Linked DNA regions of Homo sapiens. The protein of the gene in region 2 interacts with the protein of the main gene of each other region in a pairwise test. Each region holds a gene or a part of one and is shown on either strand. Other genes may lie near its edges.

What was found.
Region 1: the proteins of SYNPO2 (region 2) and WNK1 interact in a two-hybrid assay, tested with the Homo sapiens proteins (one large-scale study listed by IntAct).

What each region holds. Positions count from the first base shown.
Region 1 is NC_000012.12:755,347-759,169, reverse strand, and holds part of WNK1 (serine/threonine-protein kinase WNK1), read right to left. Parts: intron 1-3,823. UniProt on the Homo sapiens protein: Serine/threonine-protein kinase component of the WNK1-SPAK/OSR1 kinase cascade, which acts as a key regulator of blood pressure and regulatory volume increase by promoting ion influx.
Region 2 is NC_000004.12:119,028,205-119,032,027, reverse strand, and holds part of SYNPO2 (synaptopodin-2), read right to left. Parts: intron 2,184-3,823; coding exon 1-2,183. UniProt on the Homo sapiens protein: Has an actin-binding and actin-bundling activity. Can induce the formation of F-actin networks in an isoform-specific manner.

The DNA.
Region 1 (3,823 bases), on a different chromosome or scaffold from region 2:
TACAGCTTTATCTAAAAAAATGTAAAAACTACCAGAAAACCCAAATAACAGGTTTAGGATGATTTCTGAAAATGAGAGCCCAGTTTTAGTTGAATGTTTCCATAGGGATGAACTAAGATGAATTTTATTTATATTTATATACATATATTTTTTATTTTTTGAAATTCTTTGATAAGCTGCTGGTGGAATAAGATAAATTTTAAATGACTAGGCTCTTGCATCAGAATTTGAATGTCAAGAAATGAATTGTCACAAAGCAACAATAGATTCCTGGTTTGTTTTACACAAAAACAACCTCTTTCCAGGTTTTTAGATTACTTCTCAGACTGTGTTACTACGGGTCAGAAAAAAGGTAAGAGAAAAAAATTTGCCAATACTCCTAATCGGTGACTTTGAGGATTTAAGAACAAACTCCAAAAACTATTCCCTGAGACGGAAAGTTACGCTGATTCTCATCCTAAAAAATAAGGAATGTGGCACAAATTTAAAAGATAAGAGGGAAAAAATCACCAACATTCAAATAGAGAGATTCAGTTCAATTAGATATTTTAAGAACTATAGCAGACCATCCTGGCTAACAAGGTGAAACCCCGTCTCTACTAAAAATACAAAAAATTAGCCGGGCACGGTGGCGGGCGCCTGTAGTCCCAGCTACTCGGGAGGCTGAGGCAGGAGAATGGCGTGAACCCAGGAAGTGGAGCTTGCAGTGAGCCGAGATTGCGCCACTGCAGTCCGCAGTCCGGCCTGGGCGACAGAGCGAGACTCCGTCTCAAAAAAAAAAAAAAAAAAAAAAAAAGAACTATAGCAAAGAAATAAATGATGGTTTCTTAATCACAGAACCACATCCCATTTCTGTAACACTGCTATACTATTCACAAAATATTAATGTCATGTACTCATGACACACAGTCTTAATAAAAGACAGAGAAAAATAAGCAGTTAAGTATATTGGAGCTTCAACAAAAATATGATTTAACCTCTCTTTTCAGGTAGATGTGGAAACAATCTCATCAACATATAACGCATCATGTGAACTCTTCAGAGGCAACTTGGGAAGGTGCTTAAAATAAATCATTCTTAAATCTGTGCATCAATGTTTTCTTTTTCTTTCTTTCTTTTTTTTTTTTTTTTTTTAGAGACAGAGTCTCACCCTGTCACCCAGGCTGGAGTGCAGTGGTGCGATCTCGACTCACTGCAACCTCTGCCTCCCGGGTTCAAACAATTCTCCTGCCTCAGCCTCTCGAGTAGCTGGGATTACAGGCGTGCGGACCACGCCCAGCTAATTTTTGTATTTTTAGTAGAGATGGGGTTTCGCCATGTTGGCCAGGCTGTTCTCGAACTCCTGACCGCGTGATCCACCCGCCTCGGCCTCCCAAAGTGCTGGGATTACAGGCGTGAGCCACCGCACCCGGCTCCATCAATGTTTTCTTAAAGGAAATTATGCTATCTTTTTTGAAAAACCAGATCCCTTTCTAGAAAAGCAATGTAAACTCTGCAGATAGAGCCCAACAGTAATATTTTCTGACCAAGACAACCAAATATTAAAATTAAGGTGCACTACTTGTCTAATAAAACCAGTTAAAGAAATCTGCATCTTAAACATCTCGGTAATTACTGAAGGTCCTGTGGTATCAAAATATTACCTAGGCATTATTTACTAAGAATTGATGCTTGTAATTAGCTGGGTGTGGTGGGGTGCGCCTGTACTCCCAGCTACTTGGGAGGCTGAGGCAGGAGAATCGCTTGAACCCAGGAGGCGGAGGTTGCAGTGAGCTCAGATTGCGCCACTGCACTCTAGCCTGGAGATAGAGCAAGACTCCGTCTCTTTTTTTTTTTAAAAAAAAAAAAAAAAAAAAAAAAGAATTGATGCTTGTTTTACTAAAGAGCAATGCATAGCATGACTCTAAAAAAATTAGCATGACAGAAAATAGCTTGATTTGTATACCATATTGACCCATCCACAAAAGCCTATTTATATCTCAATTTGAAGTGATAAAAATCAACACCCAAAACAGAAGCCTGAAATTTGCCATGGGTATAAGGACCGGGTTTCTCCAGAAATCCAACAGCCACTTCCACACCAACACAATATTGCTTCATTTGAAATGACTTATTAGCCATCTACTGGACTACAAATGCTTTGTCATCTCCCAAATTATTAGATCCTAACTAGCTTTTGTTCTTCATCTACCTAATCAAGTTATTTACCTGCTCTATGATTTCAGGTTCCTTATTTGTCAAATAAATAGCTGGGCAGAATAACCTAAGATTTCTCCCAGTTTCAATACACTAAGATTTTTAACTCAACAACTTAACTCAATATTCTCCTGTCTTGCTTCAGAAATATATGTATATTAAAAGGATAGATTTAGCGAAAAAGTTTCTATCTTTCCAGTGCTTTAGTAATCCCTTGGCTTGTCCTTTAATTTGGCTCCAAAGATAAAAGTTCAAACACTGACCCACTGAATATTTTATTAGGCATGTAGTGCAAGTGTCCTGGTCAAAAAACCAAAAATACTGCCTAACTACTGCTATAAAGGATTTTTCAGGTAAGATAATCTTTTCAAAATCAAAACAAAAAATTACAGAAGCACAGACAAATAACATGGAAGTTTCTAAACCAGGTACCACTTAATAAGCTAGGATTCATCTAGTTCTGCAGCCAAATCCTGAAATGACTCAAAAATAATATGCGATGTAAGATTTTCTTTAGTTTGGTAATGCCCATGCCTAGATAGAGAATTAAAAATCCAAAAAGTTACGAGTTCTAAGAAAACCTGAGAAGCTTGGACAAAGTTTTTATCGTGACATTAGACAAATTAAGTTTTTTTCACTGTATTATCAGTTCCAAGATAATAAAGTATCAGAAAATTCCAGGTGATAAAAGGAAAACACACATCACATGCTAAGAAGTCTCAGAAGTGAAATAATTAAAACTAACAAAATTAATTCATAAAGTGCTCAACAAGTAATTGGGTCCAGTCTTAAAAAAGTAAGGTAACCGGTTAAGGAAAACAAAATTGTTAAAAAGCACCTATTCAAATATAAAACTATAATGGAAGAATAAAATTCCAGCATCAGTATCAATAAGCATCGATAGTACAAGAAAGAAATGTGTCTACCTGTAAATTTCTGCCTGTAAACCAAAAGGAATCGGACATAAGTTTTTTTGTTGTTGTTGTTTTTGTTTGTTTTTGAGACGGAGTCTCGCTCTGTCACCACGCTGCAGTGCGATGGTGCGATCTCCGCTCACTGCAACCTCCACCTGCTGGGTTCAAGATATTCTCCTGCCTCAGCCTCCCGAGTAGTTGGAATTACAGGCGCGCGCCACCATACCCGGCTAATTTTTGTATTTTTAGTAGAGTCGGGGTTTCCCCATGTTGGTCAGGCTGGTCTCGAACTCCTAACCCCGTGATCCACCCGCCTTGGCCTCCCAAAGTGCTGGGATTACAGGCGTGAGCCACCGTGCCTGGCCCAGACTAAGTTTTTTGAATATGACTGACCAAAATGAACAGTTTTCGTTTGACGAGGTTTTTTTTTTTTAAAGATCTGTCACCTTTTCAATTCTAAAATACTATAAAATTAATGAGTAGTTTTAATTTCACACTACCTTAGAAGTTCTACATCATTAACTGTAAAAGTTAAGAAATGATTATGTTTGTAAAGAACTTCTTAGTTTTTAAGTTTACTTCCACATGCTGTGTTAATTTCACATTTGATATGGCCTTAGTTATTTGGAACCTGACATTCAAAGGGTTACGTGTTAACATATTAGTTCATGGATAAAATAAGTTCCAAGATCATTCAGTTATTTTCATATCCT
Region 2 (3,823 bases):
CTGAATTGTGACACCACTTTTCTTGGCTGAGAACTTTGGCCTTGGTGCCACAAAATAAGATGATGAGGCTGATTCTTGCTTTGGCGAGGTGGGAATGCCCACAGGCACTGGGGATGCACTGACTGGTGAGGAGGCCTCTGCAAAGAAGGAAGGAGGAGAGGTATAGGCTGGTACCGAGTACACTGACGAAGCCTGCACATTCGTAGGTGAGGCAGCATTCACTGGCCGGGGAGGAAGAGCTTGCTTCATGGCCAGGGCTGAATTGACCTTGACTGATGACTTCTGGGGGAGGCCATCCTTTGCATCTGGAGGTTGGAAAGTAAACAAGGATGCATTGAGCTGATACGGTTGGTGCTTCATGACATCTAATGCATTGAGGGGTTTCTTTCCCTTTTTCTTGCCCATTTTGGAGGGCTGTGCAGCTGATGGCTGAGACTTGAGAGCAGCCAGTGGGTAAGACGGCGAGTGGATAGGATTATAGGCCACAGGAGGAGGTGCTCGGACATTGGAGGAGTACTTCCAACTGGCCGGGAGAGATGGAGTGGGAGACTGAGCTCGAGCAGCGTGGGCCTGCACCGTGTCTGAATCGACCACATACTTCTCCATTCTCGACTGCCTTTTAGCAAAGAGCTGAGCTCCTCTCCCACTCATTCCTGGAAGCTCATTGGATGGTCCCACTGCACCAGGCTGAACAGCATTGACTGTTGGTGTGGAAACTGTTGGTTTGGGTGTGTAATTCTGACTGGCTACTGCTGCTTGTGGTCCTTTGAAGGGACCAGCCACGTTCAAAGTACTTGCAGGCCGGGCAGGAGGGTAAGAAGGCTGGGCTATTTTGATGGAGGAGACAACGGTGCCCTTTGATGGGTTGGATGTGGGGAAGGCAGGAGGTTGGGTGGGAGCCACTCCTGGAGACCAGACTGGGGAAACTGGAGTTACTGGTTGGGAGGATGAGGACTTGACTGCAGGTTTTGGAGCAACAGGAGGAGGGGTCTTTTGTTTGGCAGAGGAGCTTTGCATGAAATTACAAGCCTCTGCCCCCAAGCTGAGGTAGTCTTCTTCCGGTCCGGAATCACCTCCAGCTCCAGTGCCCCGTTTGCCTTCTGAATTTTGAAGGAGTGACAAGAGTTCAGGATTTGGGCTTACTTTGGGCTCTTTAAAAGTAAACATGGGTTTTGTCGTGCTTCTCCTTTTGGCCTCCTGCAATATTCCTGTTCTTTTTGCTGGCACTGAGATCCTCTCATCTCGGGAAGCTATTCGCTCAGACGAATCGTAAAAGGCTGGCTGGGACCACGGGGCAGGCTGGGGCCATGGAGGGGGCTGTGCTGGGCCAGCAATCGGACTTGAAACCCCTCTGGAGAAGGCGTCAGGGGGAGGAGTGACTGCAGAGTAAGGTGGAGGTGCAGGAAAGTCAGCAATGGGACTCGTCATGTTTCGGGTTGGCGAGAAGGGGGTAGCTGGCTGATTCACAGACCCTGGGAAGGGTTTGGCCGTTCTATTCATGGGGACCATCCTCTGGATGTTTGCTGTCTCAGATGTCCCACTGAAGCCATTCTGTTGGGGAACATGGCCAAGACCATGACTCACCTCGATGTAGCTTTTGCTCACAGAGCTCTGCGTTCTTACCGACTCTTCCTCCTTTCTTTGGTAAGAAGTCGTGGTTCTCAGGCCATCGGTCTGGGCAGCATCTTGTTCTCTGCTTGGCGTTCCACCTACCTTGTCCTCTTCTTTTTGGGCTGTGATCTGATCCATTCTCTCCCTCCTCTTGGCAAACATGAGGGCTCCCTTGCCTGTGGTGTCTGGTAACATCTCCATCTTGTCCCCTCTGTTCAGTTTCTTTTCAATGTCCACCAGTCCAGAATCCCAGTCAAAGTTCACAACTTGTGTGTTGTCGTCAACGTCAGACAATAACTCTTCATCCACCTCTGATTCGCTTGCACCAAGAAATGCTACTTCACATGTATCCTCCTTGTCACCTTCTTCCTCCTCGTCCGCCTCTCGCTCAAGCTCGCCAGTACCGTAGCTAACTAGGGTGTATTTCCTGGCCCTCCGACGTCGCTTCTTAAACATCAACACCCCCTTGGAGTTGGGGTTGGGAGCATCCGTTAGAAGAAGGGCAATGCTTTTGCATTTAGATTTTGCTTCCTTCACTTGTTTTTCTGACAGGCTTTCACTCCTCCTGAGCCCTAGGGAAAGCAAAAAAAAAAAAATTATATTGAGCTGATGAGTTCAAGGAAGACACCACAGCAACTCAGAAATGAACTCTCCTGGGGGAAAATAAATATGTAAAAAATTGCCATTGAGTACAGAATTTTGAAGGAATCCAACACATTTCTTTTTCTTATTTCTCTTAACATGTTTCCTTCTACAATAATATACTGTTCTATTTGTTTACATAAAAATATTTTATATATGCTGATTAGAATATATGTTTCATACATTTGTTTCTCTAGAGATCCTTCCACTTTAATAATAAAAACTGGCTAGTAAATGTCAATTAATAGGATAAAATTAGAATTAAGAAGGACATAATTTAAAGACATAATATTTTCTGAAAAACAAGATGAGACATATCTCATACTTCCATATTTTAAAATAAAGTGTCAATATAAAACTGTTTCCAGGAATCTTAAAAAGGGAGGAGCGTCCCAAGAAGATGTTTTAAAATTTTCTAAATGTTTTAATGTAATGAATTTAGCTATTTAGGTTTTCTTCTTTCTCTTTTTTCTTTTTTTACCCTGACAACCACCCCAAATCTTTCCACTCACAGCTACTGGATTAATATAAATTCAAAACACTGAATTAATCATTGAAGGTACTGAATCAATAATTAAAATTCAAAATATGACATTATTGTAAATACATATAAGAAACTCTAGCTACAAAGTTTTCTAGACAGATTTGTTTGTAAATGTATTGCTATTTTGGAAATACAATATTACTTTCCTTGCAGCAAGAATAAACCTTGGAGAAATTTAAAAATTGACTTGTGACCCACTTAACTGTGTAAAAACTGATGCAGAAATTAAGTCATTTAAAACAAGAATATGATTTTTATTTTATAAAAATAAAAATATTTAAAATTTTCTTTCATTATTACTATTATAAAAAAGAAATGGGTGGCAAATTATAGCAACTAAACATATAGCATCTATCATTTATAATTTATAGTTATATCATATTTTCAATGATAATGACTGTGAGTCCCCTAAATTTTTTAATTCCTCAAAACAGTTAAGTGGAAAATTAAGAAAAAATTTTTGACTATTTTATGATTGAAAATTAGCTCTTTTTGTCACAGACTTAATGGTTAATTTTTTTTAAATAAAATATAATCCAAGGAAATAATTTTATAATATGATTACAGGCATTTACTGGTGATCGAATTTTCTAGAGAAAAATAGTTGAAACTGTGGTTATTACTAAATAGAATTCCTTTTTTGACTAGTGTTATACAACTTATTAAATTGACAGTCACAGTTGCACAGTTGCTGCTAACTTCACTGCCAACATGTAAAGTATGTGAATGGTGTCTCAATACTCTTGTTTAATATGCTATAAATGTGAAGATGGCCTACAGATGCTTAAAGTATAAGGAATGATTAACAGCACTTGCCAATAAAGCTACAAATGGTTATGCTAAAAATATGCTTTGAAAGGAATAACAATAGGTTAGAAGACTTAATATCCTACTTTGAATAACCGAATTCATTGCCATTGTGTATCATATATACAGTCAAGTGCCTTTGCCTGTCAGCCTTTACATCCTCAAATAAAATTCCAAAATTAGTAAAAAAAAAAAAAAAAACAAACAAAAATAAACGTG